3 linked regions of the Homo sapiens genome follow. The protein of the gene in region 2 interacts with the protein of the main gene of each other region in a pairwise test. Each region holds a gene or a part of one and is shown on either strand. Other genes may lie near its edges.

What was found.
Region 1: the proteins of UBE2B (region 2) and HERPUD2 interact in binary tests that used the Homo sapiens proteins (3 or more experiments, as listed by UniProt).
Region 3: the proteins of UBE2B (region 2) and ZMYM2 interact in a two-hybrid assay, tested with the Homo sapiens proteins (one study listed by BioGRID).

The regions. Positions count from the first base shown.
Region 1 is NC_000007.14:35,692,136-35,700,645, reverse strand, and holds the start of HERPUD2 (homocysteine-responsive endoplasmic reticulum-resident ubiquitin-like domain member 2 protein), read left to right. Parts: upstream 1-5,510; 5' UTR 5,511-5,845; exon of another isoform or gene 5,846-6,018; 5' UTR 6,019-6,315; coding exon 6,316-6,462; intron 6,463-8,510. UniProt on the Homo sapiens protein: Could be involved in the unfolded protein response (UPR) pathway.
Region 2 is NC_000005.10:134,387,721-134,393,498, reverse strand, and holds the end of UBE2B (ubiquitin-conjugating enzyme E2 B), read right to left. Parts: intron 5,175-5,778; coding exon 5,086-5,174; intron 3,275-5,085; coding exon 3,146-3,274; 3' UTR 1,391-3,145; downstream 1-1,390. UniProt on the Homo sapiens protein: E2 ubiquitin-conjugating enzyme that accepts ubiquitin from the ubiquitin-activating enzyme E1 and transfers it to a E3 ubiquitin-protein ligase. In vitro catalyzes 'Lys-11'-, as well as 'Lys-48'- and 'Lys-63'-linked polyubiquitination.
Region 3 is NC_000013.11:20,079,858-20,087,726, reverse strand, and holds part of ZMYM2 (zinc finger MYM-type protein 2), read right to left. Parts: intron 5,712-7,869; coding exon 5,597-5,711; exon of another isoform or gene 5,591-5,596; intron 4,947-5,590; coding exon 4,695-4,946; intron 4,072-4,694; coding exon 3,951-4,071; intron 1,906-3,950; coding exon 1,713-1,905; 3' UTR 1-1,712. UniProt on the Homo sapiens protein: Involved in the negative regulation of transcription.

The DNA of each region.
Region 1 (8,510 bases), on a different chromosome or scaffold from region 2:
CATGTTGCAGTAAAAACTATGGTGCTCCTTGTCTCTGGAAAGAGCTATGTCAATTGGCTGATCACCCTTCAGAGATGTGGTAAGACTGATTCATTCTGGCAGTACCTAGAAGACTGATCTAGATGATCTCTAAGATGTTCCTGAAAGCCTTTTCCTCCTGAATGTGTCTTGTTACCCATGATTATCTTTAAGTAATAAAGTTCAGTGTAGTGGAAAGTGTGTGCATTACAGTGGGGACAGAGCTCTATTTGGAACTTACTGTGTGATTTTGGGCAGGATACTTACCCTTTCTGAGCTTCAGTGTCCTCATTATCTCTCGAGACTGTTCTAAGAATTCATTAGATGACATATAATTCAAAACACCATTTGGGATTTAATGAATGGTTTTGTTTCATTTCCTACAAGATGACTTGTGATCAAACATCTGGGACCATTTACGATTTTTAAAGTAGAGTGTTGAAATGAGCTAATTTTCTTAGGCTTCCAATGTAGGTTTTCATTTTTTAAAAACAATAAACTTGATTAAGATTTGATTAGATGCTTTGTGACACAGTCTCTTTAAAAAATGACAAGGATGGTGAAAGTAGAAATGAATGGAATCAGAAGCCAGATGGCCAACATCATCTCTGAAACTTGAAACCGCAAGATCATCACTTGAAGTCTTTCCTTCCAAGAGAGCTAACAAACTCAAACTATACTATTCAACATCATAAAAGTATTTTAGCTTCCTGGAAGGTACTCCAAATTTCAGTAAGAAAAGCTCAGTGACAAGCACTTACTTTGAATTTTTAAAGGAAACTGTAATCTCACTGAATGAATCAATTTTTTTTTTTTTTACTGTTTTTCCCCAAGATGGAGGTCTCACTCTGTCACTCAAGCTGGAGTACAGTGGTGTGATCTTGGCTCACTGCAACCTCTGCCTCCCGGGTTCAAGCGATTCTCCTGCCTCAGCTTCCTGAATAGCTGGGACTACAGGTGCGTGCCACCATGTCCAGCTAATTTTTGTATTTTTAGTAGAGACGGGGTTTCATCATGTTGGCCAGGCTGGTCTCAACCTCCTGACCTCAAGTGACCCGCTCGCCTCGGTCTCCCAAAGTGCTGGGATTACAGGTGTGAGCCACCGCCCCAGCCACAATATGTGTTTTCTAGCTGTTCTCTTTTACACCTCAAAGAAGAAGTGGAAGTAAACAAACATCCCATTAATTCACAGAAAACCATTATTTACAAATAAGTTTCTTCAAATTTATATTTTATTTGTTAACAAAGAGAGCTACCCAACAGTCAGAAATCACTGAATTGCTAAACTCACTTATTGTGTACTGAATAGTTAATATCGCTAAAGCAGAAATTATACTTATTTTTTAATTTTTAATTTCCATAGTTTTTTGGGGAACAGGTGGTATTTAGTTACATAAGTTCTTTGGCGATTTTTAAGATTTTGGTGCACCCATCACCCGAGCAGTATATACTGAACCCAATTTGTAGTCTTTTATCCCTTACGCCCTTCTCACCCTTTCCCTGAAAGTCCCCAAAGTCCATTGTATCATTCTTATGCCTTTGCATCCTCATAGCTTAGGGACATATGAGAACATATGATGTTTAGTTTTCCATTCCTCAGTTGAAGTAGAAGTATTATATTTATTATTAATGATCATGACTCTTTTATTATCTATTACCATATTATATTACCATGGTACTCTTGAGAGTTCTCATTACGGGCTTTTTTTTTTTGAGACTGAGTCTCACTCTGTCGACCAGGCTGGAGTGCAGTGGCACAATCTCAGCTCACTGCAACCTCTGCTGCCAGAGTTCAAGCAATTCTCCTGCCTTAGCCTCCCTAGTGGCTGGGATTACAGGCATGCACCACCACACCTAGCTAATTTTTTGTATTTTTAGTAGAGATGGGGTTTCACCATGTTGGCCAGGCTGGTCTTGAATTCCTGACCTCAGGTGATCCACCTGCCTCAGCCTCCCAAAGTGTTGGGATTACAGGTGTGAGCCATCGCACCCAGCTGGGGCTATCTTTAGTAGCAGATGGTAACTGAGCTGGGCAATTGTTCTTTGACATTTCCAGTTCTTATCTGTTAACATGGACAGTGATTTAAATAGGCAGCTGCATGGACGGCCTCTCCCTAACTGCTGCTATCTTGTATCTCCTCATTGGTAATTATTTTTCCTAGCCCAAATTCCACGTCAAACACTATCAATATTCTGGGGACCACCCTTTCATACACTGCTCTGTACACATACCTGTTTATACATATTTTAACAAAAGTGGAATATTTACATACTGTTGTTATCATAGCCAAGCTCAACAGCATCAAAAGCATTTTTAGGTACTTAATTCAAGTGGCTGTAAAATTTAAAAAAAATCATTTTTTCTGATACTATATCATCTTTGTACCCGTATATTTCAATTTCTTGAATGTTCATTACAATTTTATTTTTACTTTTTATTCTTTCTTGAGACAGAGTCTCACTCTATCACCCAGGCTGGAGTGCATGGTATGGTCTCAGCTCACTGCAACCTCTACCTTCTGGGTTCAAGCAATCCTCCCACCTCAGCCTTCAGAGTAGCTGGGAACACAGGCGTGCACCACCACGCCCGGCTTATTTTTGAATTTTTTTGTAGAGACGGGGTTTCTCCGTGTTGCCCAGTCTGGTCTTAAAGTCCTGAGCTCAAGCAATCTGCCTGCCTCGGCCTCCTGAAGTGCTGGGATTAGAGGCAAGCCACTGCGCCCAGCCTTTATTACAATTTTAAATGTTTTTCTCTGTGTTAGCGAACCTTTGATGGACTGTTTTAAAGAGTGTTAAAGAGTGTTTAAATCACTGTGAAATGCACATTCTGTCTTAATATTTATAATTATTAGGGTACCTTCATTAATAGTGTACATTGCATAGTGCCAAACGAGATCACCACATCACTTCTAAAGGATTCCTGGAAGTCTGAGTCACAAGCATGAGACAACAGCTGCAGGACTGGGTGGTGAAGGTTGTGAAAACTTCCTGGCTTAAACAGGAATTTGACCCAAAACAAGAAGTCTTAGGGAAGATAGCTTAGGGCTTGTCTGGTGGCACCACAATGCCATCAAATGCCCAGCCTCTTTACAGTTTTCTGCTCTGCCATCCTTGGAATGCAGGCCATTGTTCTCCTGTTTGTTGTTTCATGACTGAACTATGAGTGCTGTAGCTCTTCACGTTCCTCCTGGAAGACAGGTGTAGGGCAAAGATGAGCTCTGATTCGCAGAGCCCTTCCATCTATATGCTTTCTTAGAAGCCTCAGCAATAAGTTCAACATTCAACTCATTGGCTTGAAGTGTGTCAAATGGCTGCCCCTTGCTTCAAAGGAGTCTGAGAAAATAACTTTAGCTAGAATTAAAGTTCCATTAGAGTGCCTGGGTAGACAAAGAAGAGTCAGCTACAGAAGGCCAGTATCATAGCAAGTTGTTGCTCCATGACTGGAAACAAAGAAGACTTCACTCTTTACTTCAGATGCGCAGTTGATAGAGTACAGCTAAGATATGGTACGTGTTCTACCATGAAGAGCAAGAGCAAGGTGAGGGAGGGTACGGTGTAAGAGATCCTGCTGCATTAGCTGTTGAGAGGAAGAATTTCCTCCTGGTCACTATGTTACTGGGGGTCCTTGCTCCCCAAGTTCCCAAGATGGTGGCAGGTCGCTTCCAAGATGGTGACGGGCCACTTCCGAGATGGTGGCAAGTCTTGTGTTCTCTGACCTGGGGTTCTTGGCCTCATGGATTCCAAGGAATGGAATCTTGGGCCAAGCGGCGAGTGTTATAGCTCTATTAGAAGCTGTGGGTCATGGAAGAGAATCGTGGAACCCAGTGACTAGTGTTTAGCTAGATTAGGACGAACCTGGGCACTTAGCCCTGCAGGAACAAGGGCAAGCCTTTAGCCCGATCAGGAGCAGCAATGGGCGCCTCGCTGGATCCAGAGGGATGGAAGTCAGCTGTGGGTCTGTGACAGCGGCAGACAGCAGTGGTGGACGGTGAGCGAAAGCTCAGCTTGAGCTGTGACACACACGTACCAGAAAAGTGTGCAATTGCAAGATTTAATAGAGTGAAAACAGAGCTTCCATACAAAGGGAGGGGACCCAAAGAGGGTAGCCACCGCTGGCTTGAATGCCTGGGTTTATATCCTGATCATTGTCCCTCCTGTTGTGCTCTCAGGCGATAGATGATTGGCTACTTCTTTACCTCCTGTTTTTCCCTAATTAGCATTTTAGTGAGCTCTCTTTACTACCTGATTGGTCGGGTGTGAGCTAAATTGCAAGCCCCGTGTTTAAAGGTGGACGTGGTCAATTTCCCAGCTAGGCTTAGGGATTCTTAGCCAGCCTAGGAAATCCAACTAGTCCTGTCTCTCAGTACCCCCTCTCAACAGGAAAACCCAAGTGCTATTGGGGAGGTTTGACCACCGCTCTAACTGCTTCCTGCTGAATTGGGGCACAGTAGGGGTTGTGCAGTTGAGATTTCCTCCGTAGGGGTGCCTTGTCTCTCAACTAATTCAGTGGTGGCTACCTCGAAGCCCTTCTGAAGCTAAGAGGGAAAGAGACCAGCTCGCAAAGTCCCCTATGTTATCTACTCCTAAGTGGAAGCTGGGAGCTGTGAAAATGCACATCTAACAACCCTTAACTTACTATACCGACTTCTAAACCACAGTAGAAAATGAAGAAAAGTTCGGCTATGGGCAATAGACTCAACCTTTTGTTCTATGTCTAACCTATAAAATAGAAAAATAATACTGTCATCCCTCATCTCCCACCATACTGAACACGCATTAGGTGCTCAATGAATACTTGTCCATTTTAGTGAAGATTAAGAGGAATGAGACGGAAACTGACACTTGAGAGGCTGGCACACGCCAGAACTGCACCACACTTTGCACTCATAGCTCATTTACTCATCAGCTTGTGGTCAGGTAGGCATTACCGTCCCCATTAGAGAAGTCAACGGAGGCTCAGCAAGGACGGCCAGGGTCCCCCAGAAAGTAGAGGAGGACTTCAGGTTTAACCAAAAGCCTGTACTCTTTACACATGTACCCCATGCCTTCTCCACCAAAGCTCCTGGCACCGTGCTTTGCAGACAGACGACGCTCAACACATTTTGAGCAGAAGCGTGGTTCAGCACCAGGAAGGACACCAACTTTTGCAGAGACGACTCTTGGGATGGAGAAAGACTTCCCAAATCTTCAGGGTGCGGTCAAGACAGGGTAGGCTAGCGCCAGGGGAGCTAGTGGCTAGGCCCCAGGGCAGCTGGGGCCGAGGCCGAGCAAACGGCCAGGGGAGAGGCTCCCAGGAGCCCGATCTGCCGCTGGGCGACGCGAAGCCTGGCGGCTAGAGTCCCGGGCAGCCCGAGCACGGCGGGAAGGCGGCAGCAACAGGATCGGCAGGGATGGCGGGGACGGGGGAGGTCCATGTGCAGGGGCGTGCCGCCGGTGACGCACTTCCGCCCTGCCTGTTCCGGCTTAAAGGGGCCCCAGACAATCCTCGCAATAACAACAAAACCGGCGCGCCAGCGGTGGCGCAACGGCTCTCGTCCCCGCCCTCCTGCTACCTGTAGTCGCCTGGGCCGCCCCCGGCCCAGCCCTGCCTTGCCGCCACCCTGCGCTGTCCAGACTGAGGGGTCAGGCGGAGAGCCGGGCCGCGCCTTCGGTCAGCTTCTCTCCCTTTCACCCGCGCCTCCTCGCGAGACCCGGGGCTGGGCCGTGCCGGTCGCCGCGCAGCAGGAAGGGAGCGGCTGCCACGGAAAACGCCTGGCCGGACGGTGTGGCTGGCGGCCCTGCCTGGGCGCGGAGGGCGGCGGTGGCGGGCCCCGCGGCCTTCTCTCAGGTACCCCAGTGCCCGCTGACCGCCCTGAGCGGCCCAGCTGCTTCCCCGATCCGCACCGCGGGGCCGTGGCGTAGGGGCCTTGTTGCGTTCCAGCTTGGGGGTCGCGGTGGGGCGGGGCAGTGACCCCGGGCCGGCCGTTGTGCCCTCATCCCTCCCACCCTTCCTTCGTATAGCTTCCTTTCTCCTCACGACGGCCTCCACAGTCCGGAGCCCGGCGGAGCCCGGACCTGGCGGGGAGAGCTGCCTCCACGGCCGGGCACCCAGACCCCACCGTCGCAGTCGCCACCACCTCAGTCCATCCTTGGTACCGGCAATGGGCTTCGTATCCTCCAGTGCACTTGTAACTGACTTGGACACGGAATACTAAGAACTCACTTCTGTCCTCATCCCAGTCGCGCCGGCGGTGACCATCTCGGCTCTTTTGGGCTTAACTGCCGCTCCTCTGGACTCTGTCTGACTTTGGGGGCACCATGGACCAAAGTGGGATGGAGATTCCTGTGACCCTCATCATTAAAGCACCGAATCAGAAATACAGTGACCAGACTATTAGCTGCTTCTTGAACTGGACCGTGGGGAAACTAAAAACGCATCTATCTAACGTTTACCCTAGCAAACCAGTAAGTGTGTAAAAGCTGGGGGCAGCTGCTCTGACCAGCAGCTTTTCGTGCCGTGTACCCTCCTTTTTCCTGCTTCTCCCCTCCAGTCTTGAATCAAATAGGTCTCTTTTGGTAGACCGCGAGGTATTTTGAGTTCTGAGGTTGTGTCTCCTGAGTGTTCGAACCATCATTAATATTTTCCTGATGAGGTTCAGTTAATTAGTAAGAGGAAGCAGAAATATCAAGGGACTTAAGAATTGGCAGGCAAAGACCGGGCGCGGTGGCTCACACCTGTAATCCCAGCACTTTGGGAGGCCAAGGCGGGCGGATCACGAGGTCAGGAGTTCGAGACCAGCCTTACCAACATGGTGAAACCCTATGTCTACTGAAAATACAAAAATTAGCTGGGCGTGGTGGCGCATGCTTGTAATCCCAGCTACTCAGGAGGCTGAGGCAGGAGAATCGCTTGAACCCGGGAGGCGGAGGTTGCAGTGAGCCAAGATCGCACCACTGCCCTCCAGCCTGAGTGGCACAGTGAGACTCTGTCTCAAAGAATTGGCAGGCATGGAAAAGGGACTACTTTCTTTGGACTTAAAGTCATCAACCTAATATGCGAGTGAGAGATATATCCTTTCTTAAAAAAAAAAAAGATAAAGCACTACAACCCGTATCAGAGCTTTTATTGCTTATTACACTAAAATTCCATTTTACTTTCAACACTTGGCCCAGAAACTTAAACAGAAATTGAAGATTTTTTTTTCTTAGAAATAAGTATGTGTCCCCTATAAAAATTATACTTTCAAGGTTACTATATATGTTTCAAGGACCAAAGAATTATAAGTTGTAGATTCGTTTTCACCACAACCCCTTTCAACATTTTTCTCCTGTAGAGGATACATGGACATTAGTTTAAAAGAGAACTGCCCTCCACCCCACCACCATTTGGTGCATCCCTCTCATATGGCTTTTCCATTCTGTGTTCCATTCTGAATCATAACTGGATATTGCAGAGATAATAAATAAAATATAGACAGTACAGCTCCATCTGTCCCCAAAGTCAGATTTGAAAGGCCGTGGTTGGTAATCAAGGAGTCTTGGAATAGTTTAGAAAAGAAGTATACCGTCATGTAGAGTACTGTATATGAAAGTGAGGCTTTCGCATTCTCCACTGTATACATTTTTTATTCTTGAATAAGTAGTGTTTAATTACTAAAACTTTTGTTTAATAAAGAGGGTCGGATTTTAGGGTGGGAAATAACTTTTGGCATCAGGTACATTTAAGCATGGATCTGTTGGAAGGCAACTATGCTTTCTACACTTAACACTTGTTTTATGCACCTAAGTTAAGGAAGACACTTGATCTATATTACGATATTAATGAATTATGAGCATTTCAGTGTTGTAGTATTAAGTTTAGTTAGGCTTTTAGACTTGCAGAAGAACCACAGAAATAGGACGGTTATTGCAAAAACAGGAGGTTTAGAAAAACAACTCTTAATCGGCATTAGCTGTGTTTATCAGTACTTTGTGATACAAATATTTTTAGTAGGAGGGAAAAAAAACCCTGAGGAATTTAAGTACTTAAACTAGTTAGAGCCCCTGTTTATTCACATCTTTTGTTTGAAAGTTAAGATTTACACAGGGAGTAAGAATCTGTTTGAAAATACCTTGATTACAAAAGATTTCCTGTTGCATATGATTAGTTTCACACATTTTTGAAGTGGAAAATAGGTTTTTAGGATAGTCAATTGAAAGTCATAGACTTCCATAATACTGTTCATAGCAAATATATGCTCTGGTATGTACGTAGGCGAGATCTTTACATTGTACTATTAAACCAAAAGGGACCTAGTCTGCAGTTTATAGACTTTTTTCTAAAGCTTTTTTAAAAAAAAGTACCTGAGACGGGAGTGGGAAGCCTGTCTGCCTTATCTACCCATGAAGAGGCCTGCTTTTGGCAGGAGGTCTGCCTGTGCAGCACTGATCACTAGTGGAGGATGTCAGTGCCGCTGTGCATTAGTTAGCTGTCTGAGGATGAGATCTGTTACAGAACTCCTTCCCAAACTGCC
Region 2 (5,778 bases):
AGCTCAGGACTTTGAGACCAGCCTGGCCAACATAGTGAGACATTGTCTCTACAAAAGTAAAAAAATTAGCCAGGCATGGTGGCATGCATCTGTAGTCTCAGCTACTCAGGAGGTTGAGGTGGTAGGACCGCTTAAGCCTGGGAGGTTGAGACTGCAGTGAGCCGCCTGGAGCCACTGGACTCCAGCCTGGGAAACAGAGCAAGACCTTGTCTCGGAAAAAAAAGGAAACCTTTTCATTGGAGTAGACACAAGTCTGTATAAAACTAAATCAGTTAAAAGTATTTCCACAAATTTGGATGTTGAAGTTCTGCAGAATTTCTAAAACCAATCTCAACCTCTTAAAAGATAGCACATTTCTGGGTAAGACCACATAGGGTTCAAATCCCAGTTCTATGACTTACTGGCTGGTTGATCTTGAGCAAGTCACTTCATCTGTCTATCTGTGGCTAGTTTCATTATCATCTTTTTTTTTTTTTTTGAGCCAGAGTCTCACTCTTATTGCCTAGGCTGGAGTGCAGTGGTGAGGTCTCGGCTCACTGCAACCTCTGCCTCCCAGGTTCAAGTGGTTCGCCTGCCTCAGCCTCCCGAGTAGCTGGGATTACAGGCACCTGCCACCACGCCTGGCTAATTTTTGTATTATTAGTAGAGACGGGGGGTTTCACCATGTTGGCCAGGCTGGTCTTGAACTCCTGAACTCAGGTGATCCGCCCACCTCAGCCTGCCAAAGTGCTGGGATTACAGGCATGAGCCACCGTATTTGTGAATTTGAAATGAAATAATATATGTTAAAAGTGCTTAGAATAGTGCCTTTCACAGATTATTCTGTGCTGGGGTATTGTTACAGGGAATTGTATCACACATGCATTTAAACTTTTTAACATGAATCCATCAATATAACTTTGTACCAACATAAACATTTTAGTTCTAGCTTCTTGCCCTACCATACATTTATGAAACTGACCTAGAGTTTAAAGTAAACACTTTTTGTATGACTCAACCTTGTAAATCGAAGGTTTATATCTGGTACTTAACCAAAGAAATAGGAATCTGTTCCAAGGCTGCAGAAAAAAGTGAGGAGTTATGTATAGATTGAACCTTCTTAAGGATTTTCTCGAAAAGGAATGTGGATGCTATGAGTTTTATGCATATGTTGAATTTTGGAGTTAGAACTCACTGACCTCCCTGTAAAGTAACATGTAACTTCTTTATAATTATCTACCAATACTTGAAATTTTCCTGTTTTAAACTGGGAAAGGCAAAAACAGGTCAAGGATAAAAATGGATGTTGAAATAGTAACCAAATAGCATTTAATGAAATAAGAGGGCAGACCCTCATAGCTACTGTATATTTAATCTAGGAGTTACTGGAGTGAATGTCTATAGTTTGTTTTGGAGCTAAACTATAAAAGCACCACACAATTAAAGCATCTTTTTGGGAGCCACGATTCCAGTGAGTGAATTCCCATTTGTATCAAAGTTCCCTAAGATCATACACTTACCTCAGAATTTGCCAAGTAATAGCTTTTATTTTTAAAGACAGGGTATTGCTCTGTCACCCAGGCTGGAGTGCAATGGCATAATCACAGCTCACTGCAGCCTCAACCTCCTAGGCATAAGCTATTCTGCCACCTCAGCCTCCTAAGTAGCTGAGACTACAGGCAAGTGCCACTATGCCCAACTAATTTTTTAAAAAATTTAAAGTAGAGAAAAGTCTTATTATGTTGCCCTGGCTGGTCTCAAAGTCCTGGCCTCAAGTGATCCTCCCGCCTTTGCCTCCCAAAGTGCTGGGACTACAGGTGGGAGCCACCTGGCCCAGCCTATAAGCATTTATCCAATCAATGTTAAACGTTGCATAATGAATAGAAGCTGTAGATATTGCCATACTGTAATCCAATTTTATGGATATGAGAAGAAACTCTTGGGGTTACTAAAATAGCTGTTTTAACTACTAGAGAGACTACACAGGTGGTTCAACAGAATTTACTTGTATATTTTCCATTTTCTATACTATTTGAAGGCATAGGATAGTTTTGTATTAGCTTTCTACAATACTGTGTTTTAAATTTATCCAGTAAACTAAGATGCAGTACAACTTTTATACAACTCAGGAGATTAAAAAAAAAATCTCCACAAGAAGAAGCAACTCAGCAGGCCCTGGCATTAAAACATTTCCCAGAATAAACAGATATGCATTGCATTAAAGGTAATTTTCAAATATTTAAGTTACACCAAGATTTCCCTCCAATATGTGCCTTTCTCAAACCAATGCAACTAATTCATTGCTAATACTGGGGCATGAATTTTTGGCAAATGTTTATGGTTTTACTTTCTTCATTAATCAAAAAATTTTTTAAAGTGCTACCAAGCAGCAAAACAAGTCGCATCAGTTCTCTGCTCATGGCAGAAGTGCCAACTGTGAAATCGCAAAAGGTACAGTTTTAACAGTAAGTAATGCATGAAGAAACTGTAACAAATGGCCTAAATACAGAGTTGGACAGAGTCAAACCAGTTATGTCTAGAATTACTCAATTGAAACTAATAGAGGTACATTCAAAATAAAGTTGGAGATTATAATCGCTATTTAGAATCAAATTTGAAGACTTCCTTGATAAAATATAAGAATGTTCTTTTGAAATTGTAAATGAAACTATCAATAGATGGAGAGCTAGAGACTTATTAACCCCTCCTACACACATAAGGAAATAAGTGACAAAGTCTCTTGCACTGAAGTTATGTATTTTAACAGCTTTACATGTAATATTCATATATAAAAAACTTTAAGTGCTTTTCTCCAATTTAAAAATCTAAAGAATTCAAAAATAAGGCATTCAATATTTGAAAAAAGTACAGATTTACAAAATGTGTATATTCTGTCATGAAAACTCCACACCAACATTATACACTTGGAAAAAAATACAAACAGGATATATTACAAATTTATGCAGCAATAACTTAGTTCACACCATGCAATAAAAAGTACATTAATCAAGATACACAAGCTTTTGTAGGTTCTAAACTGAAGGACTTTTTTCTTTTTTTTCTGCAGAATCCTTAAAACCTGTGGCACTTAAAATTTGTTAGCCTTTCTAATGAGAGGTAAATTATACACAACAATGATGAAAAAGATTAACAGACCAGTTGTCTATTATGAATCATTCCAGCTTTGTTCAACAATGGCCGAAACTCTTTTCTCATATTCTCGTTTGTTTTCCTGATAAAGCTGTGCTGCCTGGCTATTGGCTGGACTGTTAGGATTCGGTTCATCCAGCAGAGACTAGGAGGAAAGAAAAGAAAAAACAGATTTGCATAGTTGTTCTTTATACCAACAGGGGTCAGATATGGAATATATTACAGAAAAGTTATACAAAACAACAAATTACTTCAGAGATTAACATGTCATATAATTTTGGGTCTAAATACTTTTAGAAATGATTTGATAAATACTATGGGGTTTCCTGCTGCTAAGGAACTTAAGCTTCTGAAATAAAGTTCTCAATTGCCTTAAGACCTATAATTTCAGCTGGGTACAGTGGCTTGTGCCTGTAATCCTAACACTTTGGGAGGCCAAGGCAGGAGGATCCCTTGAGCCCAGCAGTTCAAGCCCAGCCTGGGCAACATAGGGAGACCCTGTTTCTATTAAAAAAGAAAAAGAGGTCGGGTGTGGTGGCTCACGCCTGTAATCCCAGCACTGTGGGAGGCCGAGGCGGGCAGATCACCTGAGGTAGGGAGTTCGAGACCAGCCTGACCAACATGGAGAAAACCCCGTAATTTCTAAAAATACAAAATTAGCCGGGTGTGGTGGCGCATGCCCGTAATCCGCTACTCGGAAGGCTGAGGCAGGAGAATTGCTTGAACCCGGGAGGCAGAGGTTGCAGTGAGCTGAGATCGCGCCACTGTACTCCAGCCTGGGCAACAAGGGTGAAATTCCGTCTCAAAAAAAAAAAAAAGAAAAAAGAAAAGAAAAAAATACCTATAATTTGAAAGAAATCAGAAAAGAATATTCTTAAGCATATTGAGACGTTCTCATTAAACCAAGGAAATAAACAGCTTAATTTGGTTAAGATATCAATAATTCTCAGTAACCAACATTTTCCAAGGTTAAACTCTATTACTGCAGTTACTTTGCAAATGTCTTGACAGTAAATTTGGGAGATAAGTCTTATTTCCTTTAATCAACAAAACATATACATTTAGCAGGAAGAGAATGAGATAGGAAGGTTGAAAAACAACGCTTGTAAGATGACCAGAACTGGCCTGGTGCAGTAGCTCACGCCTGTAATCCCAACACTTTCGGAGGCTCAGACGGGCGGATCATGAGGTCAGATGGAGACCATCCTGGCTAACACTGTGAAACCCCATCTCTACTAAAAATACAAAAACTTAGCCAGGCGTGGTAGCATGTGCCTATAGTCCTAGCTACTCAGGAGGCTGAGGCAGGATAATCACTTGAACCCGGGAGGCAGAGGTTGCGGTGAGCCAAGATTGTGCCATTGCACTCCAGTCTGGGCAACAGAGCAAGACACTGTCTCAAAAAAAAAAAAAAAAAAAAAAACAATTAAAGAAGTGTGAGAGAAAAAACTTTAAAAAGAACATCACAAACCAACATATTATTTCTGCTCCTCTCAAATCCACAAAACCGAAACACCCCTCACTCCACCCCTCCTAAATTTTCATTCAAAGATCTATTCTGAAATATTCTGCCAGACTGCTTCGACAAATGGTTACATTAGTTTTCCTTTCTTTTTTTAAAATAGAATTTCTTGGATGGGGTAACATACTCAATGCTTATCTACACTTGGCAGTTTCTTTAGGTTCCTATGGTTTTTCCAAGCCATTTTTTCTTTTCCACAACCCTTGGCTATGCTTCATGGACACAAATTAGGTTTGACCTGTGAGAACATGTAACTTACACAATCAGGAAAGGGACTGCAGACTGGATCCCAAGTAGGCACTACTGAAAGAGAAAAGTTAGCTGAAAAGCATGGATTCTTGTCCAAGCTCTGCCATTGGTTACCTGTGTGCTAAGGAGCTGACTATATCCTACAGAATACTGACAAATTATAATACATCCTAACACACACTTACCTGAATTGATGTTAAGATAGAAGATACATCATATGTTGGACTCCATCGATTCTGAAGGATATCTAAACATATGCTACCATCAGCATACACTGCAAAGACAATACTAAAATTAGTTACACACTCTGCCATATCTAACAGTTAAGAGAAATCTTTACCAAACAGAATGCTTGGCTTAGAAGTTTTAAATATTAGGTAATAACTAAATTCTTCTGTATCACAGGATAACCTGTCTTAAAACTAAGGTCTCTTATTTTGCACCTGCTATGGTTTGAATGTTCCCTCCAAATCTCATGTTGAAATGTAATTGCTGGAGGCTGGGCACGGTGGCTCACGCCAGTCCTGAACACTTTGGGAGGCCGAGGCAGGCAGGATTGCTTGAGGTCAGGAGTCTGAGACCAGTCGGGCCAACACAGTGAAACCCCATCTCTACTAAAATTATAAAAATTAGCCGGGCATGGTGGCACATGCCTGTAATCCCAGCTACTTGGAAGGCTGAGGCAGGAGAATCGCTTGAACCCAGGAGGCAGGGGTTGCAGTGAGCTGAGATCACACCACTGCACTCCAGCCTGGATGACAGGGTAAGAACCTGTCTCAAAAAAATAAAAGTAAAAAAATTAAATAAAAAAAAATTAATTGCCATTGTAACACTGTTGAGAAGTGGGACCTTTAAGAAGTGCTTAGGTCATGAGTGCT
Region 3 (7,869 bases), on a different chromosome or scaffold from region 2:
AATCAAGGGACTGAAAAGTCATTCAACTTATAAAACAAGTTAGAACATTATAATTTTTTATGCCAAAACATTCAGATAATTATTGCTTAGATATACAATAATGACACCTGTGAAATTTTCCAAATCAGAATTGAGAAAATTTCTTTTGTGTGCTGTAACATTTATCCTATGGGAGAGAGGAGTATCTAAGGATGTGTAGCAATTGCTAGCCACTATGGAAAATAGCTCAATTTTCCCCTGAACAATTTCTAAACACTAATGCTACCATGGTCATTCAGGAATCAGAAGAAAACATGATTACACACATGCTAGAAAAGAGCCAAATGATTTCAAGATAATTTGCAGCTAGCACTTTGTTCAGTCTTTAGAAAGTAGATTTTAAGTTTCCTTATTCTAAAAGAAAAGGTCTGAATGGATAAATTGCTATGCAGAAGCACAAAGTTGTTTTTTTTTTTAATGCAATCTTCTATAAGAAGTAATTTCAAAAGCCAAACAATCTAACATTAAATGGGATTTCCTCTGAGACTGACTTTCTCTATTAGTTTCTTTGTTTGTTCCTCAATCATTTGCAATATCAGAATTACTACACTGGTAATCTTCATTATAAAATGTGATCCTATCTTATTTAACATAGCTTGACTTTCTGTAACTATTTCAGGAGTGGAATTTCTAAAAACAATTTTATCCAATGTAAACAGGCACAAGAATTCTGATAAAATTGCTAAGTTTTAGAGTACTACACAGCTAACATTGCAGCATGATCTGTATCCTTAAGAGGGAAAAAAAGAAATAAAAATCAAACCTCTATAAATGAAGAGGATTTCAGATACTTATGGCTGGCATAGAAGAAAACAGAATTTTATACTTTCACCAGACATTTTTACAAAGGAAATGTCTTGATGATCTTGTTTTCAACTTACAATCATTTATATATATATATATATATATATATATACACACACACATACATACATATATATACATATATATATTTGTTTTTTATTGATTGGGTGATGCAGAAAGCCACAAATGAGAAAAGGACACTAAGGTTTTAATAAGGGGAACAAAAAATTGTTTTCACCAGCATAGATTCACATTACAGTACACCAATATTGACAGCATTCTCTTGTCTATTTTTGGTACAGAAGATGGTATCTCTCTACATAACCTTGTAAGGCTTCAGTAACTAAAATGTAAAACCAAACAAAACAAAACCCCAAAACAAAACAAAAACCCCAGCCTATTAGTTTACAGTTTATTTTAAAAATTCCGAAAGACACTGCAAGTTCTAAACTTTTAGTAGTGCTACCCATACACAACCATCTGGTTAAGAACCCAGTAAAAGAGCCCCCTTCCAAGGAAGCTTTGCAACAGTAGAGTTGTGCAATATGGATGTTTCTTACTACAAGAAAAAAATTATACATGGCACATTCTCATTCATATTCTGTAATGTAAAAAGTTACAAACATACCTAATCAAATAAATAATAATAAAAAAAGAATTTGAATGTATTTGTTAAGTATCCTAAAACCACTACATAGAATAATGGCAACTTTCACTCACAGATTATTTACATGGTAATACCCAGCGTGGGTACACTGCTACAAAACTCAAAACAGAAGGAGTAAACTTGAAATGTTTTCCATAATAAAGATCTAGCAGCATGACTATCTAATGCTGTTTTATCCCGATTGCTTCTGCAACGTTCCTTTTTAGTCTGTGTCTTCATCCAGTTCATAATTGTCTTTATCATAAATATCTTTTACTAGAAGAACCCGTACAAGCATATTTTCCAAGGTGTTTCGGTCCAGTGAAGTAGACGTATACCAGACAGGGCTATCTGTAGAACTAGAGCATTCTGGTTGCAAATAAAAAACATCCATCCTCTGATTAAGATTCTGTGGACTTTGGAGGCGGGAGGAAAAAGAGAAAAAGTCAATTTCACAAAATTTCCACAACTTTTTCTTTTTTCAAGAATAATTCAGACCCCATTAATCACGTTATATGACCAGACCCCCTATGCCCCACTGTCTCCATTATTCTGTCATTAAAATATTCTCAAAGTTATTTTCTGAGATAGAGATTATTTCCCACAATTTTAATTCTACTTCACTAAATCCAAGACACTATCAATAGACACACCACTCATTATTTTAATGCTACCATTAAGCAAGTGAAACACTGCCAATTATGATTTCAAGATGCAACAATTTAAACTGTGCATCCCAGTTTCAGAAATAGTGAAATGTGAAAATGTCTTAGAATTGATGAAATATGTATGGCAGCACATAAAATTAAAAAATTCTTACAGCACTACATAATAGAAACTCAATTTTTAAAATACCAACAAGGTAATAGTGAGATAGGAATTTCCTACTAACAAATAGTTACTACCAACTGAAGACCCTGACACTACTGCAGCCAAATAGGACCACCCTAAACCATGGTGAGAAATACAGGCTGAGCATCCCTAATTCAAAAATCCAAAATCTGAAACTCTTTGCCAAAATGACACCAAAAGTGGAAAGTTCCACACCTGACCTCATGTGAGGAGTTCGCGCCCAAAACACAGGCACATAACACACAGGTTATTCAGCAACCCCAAGGGGAAAATAAAATCACCTTCAGGCTATGCATAAATAAAATTATCTTCAGGCTACATGTATAAGGTGTATATGAAATATAAATGAATTTCATGTTTAGAGTTGGGTCCCAGCCCTAAGACATCTTATAATGTATATGCAAATATTCCAAAATCCGAAAAAATCTGAAATCTAAAACACTTCTGGTCAGAAGCATTTTGGATAAGGCGCATTCAACTTGTACTAATATCATCCTATACATGATACTATTGTTTTTACAAGTCCTTGAGGGCCATCCTGGGGACCTGTGATTTATAAATTTGTTTAAACAGGGAAGTACATTTTGAATTCATGCTGACCTTCTGAAAATTAGAGAGTGCTTACTTAAAACAACAGGCAAGCATAAAATAATCTATGGTCTCTAAACGTTTTATTGGCTTAAACTTTTTAAAATGCCTGTTGGTCTGAGATTGAGGGGAAAAAAAATTCCAGAACATGATTCCATTTTTCATACCTGCTTGACTGTTTTCTCTTAAATGTAAATACTTCACTTACATTTCCACCTATCTATACTACCTTTGAGCATACCTTTACACCGGGCATTGGCAAACTACAGCCAGCCACCTGCTTATGTGAAGTTTTATTATAACACAGCCACATGCCATGAATTTATATATAGTATATGGCTGCTTTCTAGTCACAAGAGAACCGATTAGTTACAATAGTGATTCCATAGGCCCAAAAGCCTAAAATATTTACCATCTGACCGTTTAAGAAAAAGTTTGTGTCCCTTGCTTTGCTGTCATTGGAATTGCTGTAATTTAAAAGACAATGACAGGCGCAATGGCTCATGCCTGTAATTCCAGCACTTTGGGAGGCTGAGGCACGAGGATGGCTTGAGGTCAGGAGTTCAAGACCAGCCTGGGCAACACAGTGAGATCCTGTCTCTACAAAAAATACAAAAATTAGCCAGCTATGGAGGCACATGCCTGCAGTCCCAGCAACTCAGGAGGCAGAGGGTGGGAGGATGGCTTAAGCCCAGGAGTTTGAGGTTGCAATGAGCTATGATCACGTGCCACTGTACTCCAGCCTCGGTGAGAGAGCAAGACCCCATCTCCAAAAGAAAATGACAGCAGTAGAAATTTCATTAGTAGAGAGAGATTTCTTAACACATGCTTAAACTCTAAGTATGATGTATAAACTGGGTATTTCAAAATAAAAGATTATAACTGAATGAACTTGGGTATAACTGAGAGAGAAGAAATCTGAGAAAGAATCCATCTAAAAAAGTCACTTCTTGGTAATGTTAAATTTAAACCAGCCAACTTCTACCAACATTTTTAAAAGTTAAGTATCATTAACACTCACCTTTTAGACAAGTAGCATTCAAACATTTTCACAGGACATCTGGAAGGATTGGCTGTGTTTTCAATTTGTTCAAATACTGGCTCATCATCTTCATGTTTTCTTTTTCCAGTAGTAATTTTATCTTAAAAAATAAAAGTGAAATAAACCTCCTAAACTAATCTTGAAGAAAGATATAAACATCACTCCTAGTGTCTGTTATACCAAAGAATAGGACCAGGTGCCCCTTGGAGTTTTAAGTTATGGCTTCTGGTAATGTACAATTTTTCAAACAAAAGGAACTGAGACATCTTAAGACATAGGTTGTCTTATTTTATAAAACTGACAGTCCTTAGGTTCTTAACAAGTGACCCAGGTGGTCTTTAGTAAGGCAAGGTTTGGATATCCCTACCATAGACAATCCCAAAATAGAAATCTGGGCCATGCGTGGTGGCTCACGCCTGTAATCCCAGCACTTTGGGAGGCTGAGGTGGGCAGATCACCTGAGGTCGGGAGTTCGAGACCAGCCTCACCAACATGGAGAAACCCTGTCTCTACTAAAAATACAAAGTTAGCCAGGCATGGTGGCGCCTGCCTGTAATCCCAGCCACTCAGGAGGCTGAGGGAGGAGAATTGCTTGAACCCAGGAGGTAGAGGTTGCGGTGAGCCGAGACTGCACCACTGCACTCCAGCCTGGGCAACAAGAGTGAAACTCTGTCTCAAAAAAAATTTAAAAATAAAAATAAAAATAGAAATCTGTTACACTACCTTCATTATCTGTTCCACACAAGGAAGACACTTGGTATCGAAGACACGCTTTGTTTTCCATCGTTAAAGGATTTTTTTTCCAATGCCTAAACACAGTGCCAAAGGAAAGTCTTAAGTGTTGTTCCACTGTTTTCAGGCCAAAATACTTAGTGTTAAAGTAGAACAGTGTATTCAGAAGAGCTACTGGAGAGTGTGATCCTAGTTGTTTTATCCTCCAGAGATAGTCTTCTTCAACTCGAGAGAATATTGACCCTTAAATAGAGAGAACTATTTTAAAAGAATTATAATAAATAAAAGTTTTCATTTAACCATCTAGAAGCAGACACAGTTAATTTAAGGACAAATCTATACCAATTCTCCTTTCATATTAGATCAACTAGAATAATTCTAGAATTACCTATGCAGCTCTTTAACAATACAGAGGCTACTATGGAACTATTATCTATGGAATAAGGGACTGGATGTTTGCTTCTGTTCTTCAGTAGGACAAGCAAACAGTGGTCAGAAAACAGTGTAAATCCTTTTAAAATTAAAATTCAGGAATTTAAATTCCTGAAAAAAATTGATGACTCCACATACATACACATTTTCTTCACGGACTGAAAACAGTGGTTTAAGAGAAATTTACATCAGAAGCTCCACTGGAAGGCTTAAGACATGAACATCCAGTCTCGTACTCCAGAGAAAGTAGATTACATTTCTTACAAAGTTCTTCATAAACACTAGTTATTGACCACATTTGTTTCTAATTCAACAAGAGATGAAAGGCAGATGAGCTCGAGTAAGTGTTCAGAAAATGTTATCTAATTTAAGTGACTTAATTATAATATTTTCAAACATACTCTGTAAAAATAACAATCCTAATATCAAGAGAGCAACACCTTTAGTGAAAATAGCATTACCATCTGGAAGTATGCTTGGTTGCCAGCTTCGCAGTATTTTATTCAATTCTTGCTCAAATGTTTGGTATCCAGGATCAATAAATATGTTGTCTTTTCGATTACTTCCACACAAATACTATAAAAAAAAAAAAAGCCCCACAAACTTTCTTGAAAGAAAATCAGCTAATTATAGTAAACATATTACACTCCGTATTTCTTAAGAAAAAAATAAAGCTTTATGTCTTTGAAATGCATACTAAAACATGACTGATTTTATGTATGCACCTAGAAATTATAAAGAATCATAAATTATCAACAAATCTGTTGCTTGAAACACTCAAAGCTGAAATACACACCCCAGAATCAAGAATGTAAAAACTGGATGACAATCTTCAGTCTGTCAGACAGAAAAAAAAAAGAATATTTGACTCCCGTGTTTATTATATAGTGCATGAAGAAAAATGTAAATTTTAAAATAAAAGTGTTTTTTTCTTTTTAGTTTTTTTTCTTATAAAGTAAGAGTTATAATTAAGGTAATGACTAAAGAAAAACACTGAGTGGTAAGAATGAGAGGAAATGTTATCTGTAGCTATTGAAAGCTCTCTTCTAGCACTCTGACTTTGTCAGGCTAACGCTTTTTTCTTATTGTCTCTATATTCCTAATTCTCCACCTGTAAAACAGTGCAAATTTATGAATCTTGTAACTTACTGTCACAAACCTAGAAAAATCTTAACAGTGAGGGTGGTTACAGAATCATTTAAAGTATAAACATTAGTGGGGCTTAAAGAGAAAATAACATAAAATTATATGATAACAGCACAAAGAATGGAAGGCAAGAATTGGGAGTACACTGTTCTAAGGCTCTTAAACTACATGTGAAGTAATATAATATTATTTGAATGCAGACATGTTAATTAAAGATGCAGATTGTAAACCTAAGGTAACAAGTAAAACTTAAGAGGTACAAATAATAAACCAATAGTGGAAATAAAGTGGAATCACAAAACATATTAATTCAAAGGAAGGCAGAAAAAGATGGAAAAACAAAGAACAGATAGAATACAAAACAACCAGAAGGATAACAGATTTTAATTCAATGACAGCAGTGATCATATTACACTAAGCCAAGGTTAGGAAACTAGAGTCCTGGAGCCATATCTGGCCCATGCCTATTTTTATAAAGTGTTCTTGGAATACAGACATACTGGTTCATTTGCATACTGTACAGCAGCTTTCATGTTACAGCATAGTTGAATGTCTGCATGACATACAAGCATGACCTGTAACCATGTACCATTTGGTCCTTTATTTAAAAAGTCTGTTGGTCCCTGGTCTAAACAGCAATTAAAAGACAGATACTGGGGTGGGAGTGGTGGCTCACACCTATAATCTCAGCACTTTGGGAGGCCAAGCCAAGCAGACAGCTTGAGCTCAGGAGTTCAAGACCAGCCTGGGCAAGATGGTGAAACCCCGTCTCTACAAAAAATACAAAAATTAGCCAGGCGTGGTGGCATGTGCCTGTAGCTCCAGCGACTTGACGGGCTGAGGCAGGAGAATCACTTGAGCCTGGGAGGTCAAAGCTGCAGTGAGCCATGAGATCACACCACTGCACTCTAGCCTGGGACAGACCGAGGCCCAGTCTCAAGGAAAAAAAAAAAAGAGACAGATATTGTCGGATTCAATTTTTTTAAAGGCAAGGTTCGACAATATGCTGTCTACAAAAAGCCTATTTTAAATAAAAGAACAGATAAGTGAAAAGTAAAAGAAAAAATGTACACCATGTATACACTAATCAAAACATAAGAATGCCATCATCTGAGTTGATCCAATGTTATTCAAACTAGTCAAAGGAATATTAGTCAGCAAAATTCTAAAATAGTAGAACAAAAACTCCTAATTAATGTCTTTCAAATACAATGATAGACCAACTGATAAAAGCCTGGCAAATCAAGAAAGTGACAATGCTAGGTTTCTCCCCTGCTTTTGGGTTAGTTAAAGGGTTGATGCTCTAAAAATAGCATTTCCTAAACTACCTGGAGATCCTCATTGTTATGAATGAGAACAGCAGTGATTGCTTAAAATATAACATCATGATTCCAGCTATTTAACGGGACTATAAACTTTTGCATTGTTTCTGGATTTCTAAATATACAAACTTAGTTGGGTATTACATAAAACAATCACTAAAGTAAAATCCCCAAGTTTAGAATAGCAATTTATATTTTTTGCTTTTATCATAAAGCAACATGTGTAATAAAAAATGAGGGAAATGATTCTGAAATAATTATTTTCA